Linked DNA regions of Homo sapiens. The protein of the gene in region 2 interacts with the protein of the main gene of each other region in a pairwise test. Each region holds a gene or a part of one and is shown on either strand. Other genes may lie near its edges.

Region 1 (2,797 bases), on a different chromosome or scaffold from region 2:
GGTGTAAAATGGAAGGGCGGACTGAGAACTTCACTTCTTGCATCATTTTAAGCTACTTAATAAGCTCCTGCTCTAAACACTGTGATATGGCTGTTTTGTAATGTGTCAAGACCCTCTAAAATTGATCCAAGTAATTTTCTCTTTTCACACATCAGAAACCTGTGAACATGTGGAATTAGTGGCACCTACAATGGGTGCAACGTGTGAAGTATAATGTAATTCGAGGACAGTAAAATAATCTTTCGCTACACACTTACCTGAAAAAAAAAAAGATATAAATACAAGGGGAAGAAAAATGTAGTTCTGCCTTCCCCAAATACACTACTAGGAAAAACAAAAGTTCCCAATTCAAAAACATGGGAAAAAACCCTCCAACCAAAATAGTATACACAAAATCCAAATCAAAATGGGGTTTAACGTTGGCACCTCTGGAAAAAGATGCCTTAGCTTCCAGCCACACAAAAACATGCCTTAGCTTCCAGCCACACACAACACACCAATAGAGTTTGCTTTTTATTATTATTATTGTTTTACAATAAAAACAAATAGCTATGCTCTCAGCAAAACAAATTAAAAAAAAAAATCACAGAAATTTACTAACAGCATTTCAAGGTAAGGCTTTTGAAAGATTTATTGAAATAAATTATCTTTGCCTAAAAATTTACCTATCACCTTTTTCAATTACTTTTCAACATTCTAAAAACTTTCCGTTATGTAAAATACATTTAAACTTTGCCAATAATTGTGGATAATACTGGATTCTTCCCAAAAGGACTACCACAAAACAAAGCTTTCAAAGAGTAAAAAAAAAAAAAAAAAAAAAAAAAAAAAAAGTAATCCAATGGGGCATAAAACTGAGGTCTGTAACCTATGACTTCATGGTTCAAATCCTTAAAGTTAAACATGTGAAGAATTTGAAGAGATTTGGGACCTGGGCCCTCTCCAAGGCAGGTAGGTTCACACCTTACCTTCTCTGCTGAATTAAACCAGGAATAACACAGCTAGGAAAACGCAGTGCTCCCAGGATAAAAGATACAAAAGTTCTTTTTTATTTCTTTAATAAAGCCCTTCAAGGTTTACTCTCCCATCTTGCAAGGCCCACATCTTGTTCAAGGACCAAACCCACAGGCTTTAGCACTGCCTAATTTACTTCACCAATGAATGAAAACCATAAACCAAAGCTTGCTGCCTAACCACTCCCCAGGTCCAGACGGGACAAGGAAATGCTGAGAGGGGAGGGGACCCATGGGGCACACTCATGAGATGCAGGAGCACCAGAGTTCACGGAAATCAAGCCGGCTTTGGACTGGAGGCTCGGAAAGTCAGTCCCAGATGTAGTGGGACAGAAAGGGGTGACTTCATCACACCCTATAGCCCTGGACTTTCCCCTCCTCTGCTCCAGGTATCGAACCAAGAGTTCCTTTTCCAAGATGCCCTGCTGGCTCAGGGGTGCATGAGCCCGTGGGTCTGGCCTCTGGCACAGTCTACATGCTTCCACAACAACGACAGCAGTTTGATAACAGATGTTACCCCACGACGTGGGGGCGGGCTCACACTGTGCGCCTCCCCCACACTCTTCCCACTGGGTGTGGTGCTCAGGACACCTGCATTTGTGGGACGTACGCATGAGGCAGGAGTAGAAGCTGCCTGCTGCAGGCAGGCGACTGCTCACTTCCTCCTGATCGTCCCCCACCCCAAGCAGTCCAGTCAACACCAGAAGAGATCATACCTACAGTTAAAATTTGCAGTGTTTCTAAGGGGAAGAGAAATGTCACATAGAAAGTATTACAAAGAAGGATTAAATTTATCAGCTGTCCAAACACTATAAGACCACATGCTTTATACAGCGGCAATGCAGTCAAGCCCGCTTTTCCATGGAGCGGGCAGAATTGGGACAGGCCTCCTCCAGTCAGTCGGGCACAGGGCGCAGGAGGCAGCTGAGGAAGGCAAGGGAGCGCTAGGAGGTCTGCTGCTTCTGAAGCCTCCGTTCCGCGGCGGCAGCCAGCATCCTTCGACGCAGGGTCACGGGGTCAGAGGACGCACCTTCCGAGGGGAGGAAGCTCTCTGAGGCCGCATCATCTTCAGAACTTTTGTTCAAGAAACGTCTAGAAAAAACAGAAGACTTTTTCTCTCTCATAGGAGAGATGGGGAGCTGTGGAACACAGCCAGAAGGTTGATTTCACATCTCCCCATGTCCAGGCACCTTCATGAAGCTGTCACTCAGCACCACCCAATGACCAAGACATCCAGCCCCCAACAGATGGGCGCAAATTCTCTCTGCACCAGGGAGGAACCCTTCAGTGCTGTTCCCTGCTGTCTCTTCCTGCCCATCCCCTCCACCCACAGACACAGCACAGAACTCCCACAATCACAGGGTCTGCCAGGGCCCAAACCCACTTGAGGAACACAGTGCTGGCCCTGTCCTTAAGAGCTGGAACAAAACCCCCTCTATCCACAGGACACACCTGCTGTAGCTGCCACCAACCATGGGTGTGTGACGCACAGATGCGCTGAGTGTGTGTACAATGCTCAGCTGAAAGGCAGAGTGGTCAACAGGGAGGACCTGGGAGACAGACGCCAGGGCCAGGCCAGTGCTAACCTCTCCAGCCTCCATTTCTTCAGCTGTATGTCAGCTGAATGGGTTAACAGTGCTCCCTCTTAGAGCTGTTAAAGTAATTCATATAAAGGGCTTAGATCAGGTTAGCACACAAGTGCTCTCTCGGCAAGCGTGGCCAAAGGGGTCCATGGGAGATGACTGACAGTACCAGCATCAGAGGTAGACCAGTGGGGCCCAGTG
Region 2 (4,020 bases):
TTGTCTTCTCACTTTCCCTGAAGAGAAGAAAAAGCCGTGAGGCAGCTATGGAAAACTCAGGAGCTTCACTATCCCCAGGTAAGTCGAATTCTTCTGCTGAAGAGAGGCAAACTCCCATTTCCTACTCCTCCTGGAAGGCTGTTCGATGGCCCAGGTAAAAGCTGATCTGTTGTTGACAGTAACATAGCTCTTCTCCTCCCAAGTAACTCATTTGTGGGAAATAAAACATAATTTAGTAAAATACACCTGCCTGTCCACTTACTGGTCTCTTGCTCCTGTCTCCACCTTGGGCATGAGTCACTGAACACAAACAAGGCCCCCTGGCCCTTTTCAAAACATCGCTGCTCTACAGGGATTATCCTGGGGTTCTCAATCACAGGTAGGGAGCCCCAGTGGTGGCCCTGACACGCCTGCCCAATCTTACAGTGCAATGGGCTGTAGCAAATCCTCCAGCAAGGGGATAACCGAGAAGCCTGGCAGCTTTGGTTACCTCTGGGATGGGACGAGGTGGGAGGTGGGAGGCAGTGGTGGTCACAGCCCAGGCGGAGGGTATACTCACATCAACTCGTAGTTTCTGCGGATTGCCTCTGGTATGTTGGGCTTTGTTACCCGCACAGCCTGGAGAGAGATTAAAACAGCAGCTGATGGGAAAGTGAGGGTAGTGAGGGACACACCCAGCTCCCACTGGGCCTTGATCTTCCTGCACAAAAAGGACATCCCTTGGGAGAAGGGAAGCAGTGTCAGAGAGAGAGGGGCTGCTCCCATGCAGCAATGCTTACTTGAATGACCAGCCCAGGGGCCATGGAGGTCAGGTCCTGTTGCAAAGCCAGTTTGAGATTTTCATCAATCTGATCTGGAATAAAGAAAAGATGGAGAAAAAGGAGTTGTTACACTTTCTAGATGAGGGAGGGCAGGATGAGGTAAAGTGCAAGCTCAATCACCAGCTCAAGAATGTACTTTCCCAAGGGAGTGTGCTTATCAAAGCCCACAAATCTAAAGATCCCCTGCCCAACTTCTGAAGCAGCCTGTGCAGGCAGCCCTCTACATGGTGAACGCAAGGGCATTTTCTTTCTGTGCCTCAAGATAAAACTCAACCTTTGTTCTGAAAATACTAACCATGCCCTACAGGGGGTGAGAGCTTAAAAAGAAAAAAAAGGAAGAACAAACAATTCTAGCACATTTCTTGCGTGAGGCAGCAGCCTTTCCCTAGACAATAGCAGCAAAAGAGAAGGAAGGTTCACAGTTTCCAAGAAGAAGGAAGGTGGAATGGCTATTTAGGTTTTGTGGAAAGAGCTGAGCACATTAAATCTAGTAATTTTAGAAGTTTCTAAAAGAAAAACAGACTTTGACGTCAAGGAGAGCCCCAAGGAAGACTGTTTCTATTAGGAACTCCATCAAACAACACAAAGGGAAAATTAAAATTTACAGTTCTGGAAGCGAGCCCCAGGCTTTTGATGTGCTGTTTGCTTTGGTCCTGATTTCTTTGTCTGGAATCCACATGAGTTGTTTCACAGACAAATGTAGGAACAGCTGTAACTGACTCTCCCCCCACCTTCCTTTCCAGCTGCAATCTCAGAACAGCAGTACCAAAGCTGACTTCTCTGGCATGGGCTTCTCAGGTTTTAGAATCCTCTTCCTTGCCTTCTGCCCATGATATCCTTGATAAGATCCCGGAGGGGCTTAGAGAAAAAGACAGAGTGAAATCAGGCTGGGACTTGTACACTGCATCTCTCCTTTGCTGTCAGCCGCCATCTGCTTTAAGTGGTCCTTTCGTGGTCACCTGTGCTCAAATAAGAGCCTCTGAGGAAGAGAAAGTCTCCGCTCTTTCACTGATGCCAAAACGGAGGCCCATGAAAGCTGGCTAGTAGCAAAAATAACAAGCTTGTTTAACTGGTGGGCCTTGATTGTTAGGATTTTAAGACAGTAGTATCAGTAAACAAGGGACGGTAACGTTTCCACATATAGGATGTGCTCTCACAAGCCTCTGAGCACCGAAGGAGAAATGCCATCAAGTCGGCACCTCACACCTGCCAGGGGTCAACCAATTTAACAACTAGAACTAAATATTACATTTCATATTTTAAGTAATTTTAAGTAGAATACCAACCAAACTTTAAATGGCCCGTATCCTCCATAAGTTAATAACGTCATTCCTCAGACCAAATTATATCTGTCAAGGTGGAAACCTGTGGCCCTGGGCTAGTAGCTTACCGGAAAAATGTGAAAGAAATACTTTTCAAGTTGTTTTAGTAATATTGATGTTTATATGTTATGGAAATGTTGATAAATGCCATTTAAATTGTATTACTAAGGTAGCCGCAGGGAAAAGGCGCAAGGCGCGCTCGTGACGTCATTTCGGCGCGACCCTCTTCTTTGCGTAGAGTTTTTCAGGTTGCTCCTGGAAACCATGCCGAAAGTAGTGTCTCGGTCAGTAGTCTGCTCTGACACTCGGGACCGGGAGGAATATGACGACGGCGAGAAGCCCCTCCATGTGTACTACTGTTTGTGCGGCCAGGTGGTCCTAGTGCTGGACTGTCAGTTAGAGAAATTGCCCATGAGGCCCCGGGACCGGTCCCGTGTGATTGATGCTGCCAAACATGCCCATAAGTTTTGTAACACAGAAGACGAAGAGACTATGTATCTGCGGAGACCTGAAGGCATTGAACTACAGTACAGAAAGAAATGTGCAAAGTGTGGACTGCTGCTCTTCTACCAATCCCAGCCGAAGAATGCTCCCGTTACCTTCATTGTGGATGGAGCAGTCGTCAAGTTTGGCCAGGGCTTTGGGAAAACGAACATATATACTCAGAAACAAGAGCCTCCTAAGAAGGTGATGATGACCAAACGGACCAAAGACATGGGCAAGTTCAGTTCTGTCACTGTGTCTACCATTGATGAAGAGGAAGAGGAGATTGAGGCTAGGGAAGTTGCTGACTCGTATGCACAGAATGCCAAAGTGATTGAAAAACAGCTGGAGCGCAAAGGCATGAGCAAGAGGCCACTGCAAGAGCTGGCTGAATGGGAAGCCAAGAAAGTGAAAATGAAGGGGACCTTGATTGACAACCAGTTCAAATAACCAGGCTTTTTTTCTGAGCCCTAGACTGGAGGCAAGCATTTAGATCAGGAGACAAAGTAACTTCTTGATTACATAGACTGGTTCCTATTTATATCCCAGCAGAAGGCTTTATGTTGTTTCCCATTGATTCTCCTACATGCAGTGAGGTCTTTAACTGAGTCCATTTGACCTGCTTTCTAGGAGATGGATTTTTCTCTAATTTTTTTTCTGTATTTAGATTTTCTTTACTATTTTTTGTCCATTTGATGCAAACTTCTTCAGCTGTGTAGAAACTTTATGAATAGATAAGTGCTTGAGTGTCTCTGGTCTCTAAAGTGGCTGGTTTTATTCTTTCTTCAAAGTTAATAACATGTTTCAAGATTTTTGGACAAAATATTATGGTACGTCATAGAGAAAAGCAGCGTGAATTATATTTAGGTATAGCAAGTCAGATCCTTTGAAGTGACTCTGTCTCTGTTCTTAGAAGGGTTCTTGGAATTGGTTGTGGTTTGAATCTTTCTACTGTCAGAGGAGACCCACTAAAAACCAGAATCTGCATAAAGCTTTCTTTACTTAACACACTGAAGCTATAGGTGAGCCATCCCATGTCAGACTTTATACTCAAAGAAGGAAAAGCCAAGTTGCAGTGAGCGGGTAAGACAGCTCAGATCCGAATGAAAATGGGGTCTGAATAAGTAACCCAAGGGAGCTGCCCTCTAGTCGGGCAGCTAGTATTGCTTCCTTGCATGGATACATAGGAGGGATACATTATAGATTAATAAATGATAGTGAGATAAACAAAATGATCTGTTGTGTATCTTTTACTTTACATTTGCTATTTACAGAGGAGTGTTGTATACATAGGTATTATTTTATGTCACACTGCTTCAGTGATAACTATATCCATGTGTTTGTATCCATGTTTTTATCCATTCAACTGTATTAAAAGGTGTTGGGACAGGAAA

What was found.
Region 1: the proteins of ERLIN2 (region 2) and AMFR interact in binary tests that used the Homo sapiens proteins (3 or more experiments, as listed by UniProt).

Annotation. Positions count from the first base shown.
Region 1 is NC_000016.10:56,360,952-56,363,748, forward strand, and holds the end of AMFR (E3 ubiquitin-protein ligase AMFR), read right to left. Parts: intron 2,106-2,797; coding exon 1,958-2,105; 3' UTR 501-1,957; downstream 1-500. UniProt on the Homo sapiens protein: E3 ubiquitin-protein ligase that mediates the polyubiquitination of lysine and cysteine residues on target proteins, such as CD3D, CYP3A4, CFTR, INSIG1, SOAT2/ACAT2 and APOB for proteasomal degradation.
Region 2 is NC_000008.11:37,746,392-37,750,411, reverse strand, and holds part of ERLIN2 (erlin-2), read right to left. Parts: exon of another isoform or gene 3,862-4,020; intron 3,859-3,861; exon of another isoform or gene 2,366-3,858; intron 854-2,365; coding exon 780-853; intron 619-779; coding exon 560-618; intron 18-559; coding exon 1-17. UniProt on the Homo sapiens protein: Component of the ERLIN1/ERLIN2 complex which mediates the endoplasmic reticulum-associated degradation (ERAD) of inositol 1,4,5-trisphosphate receptors (IP3Rs) such as ITPR1.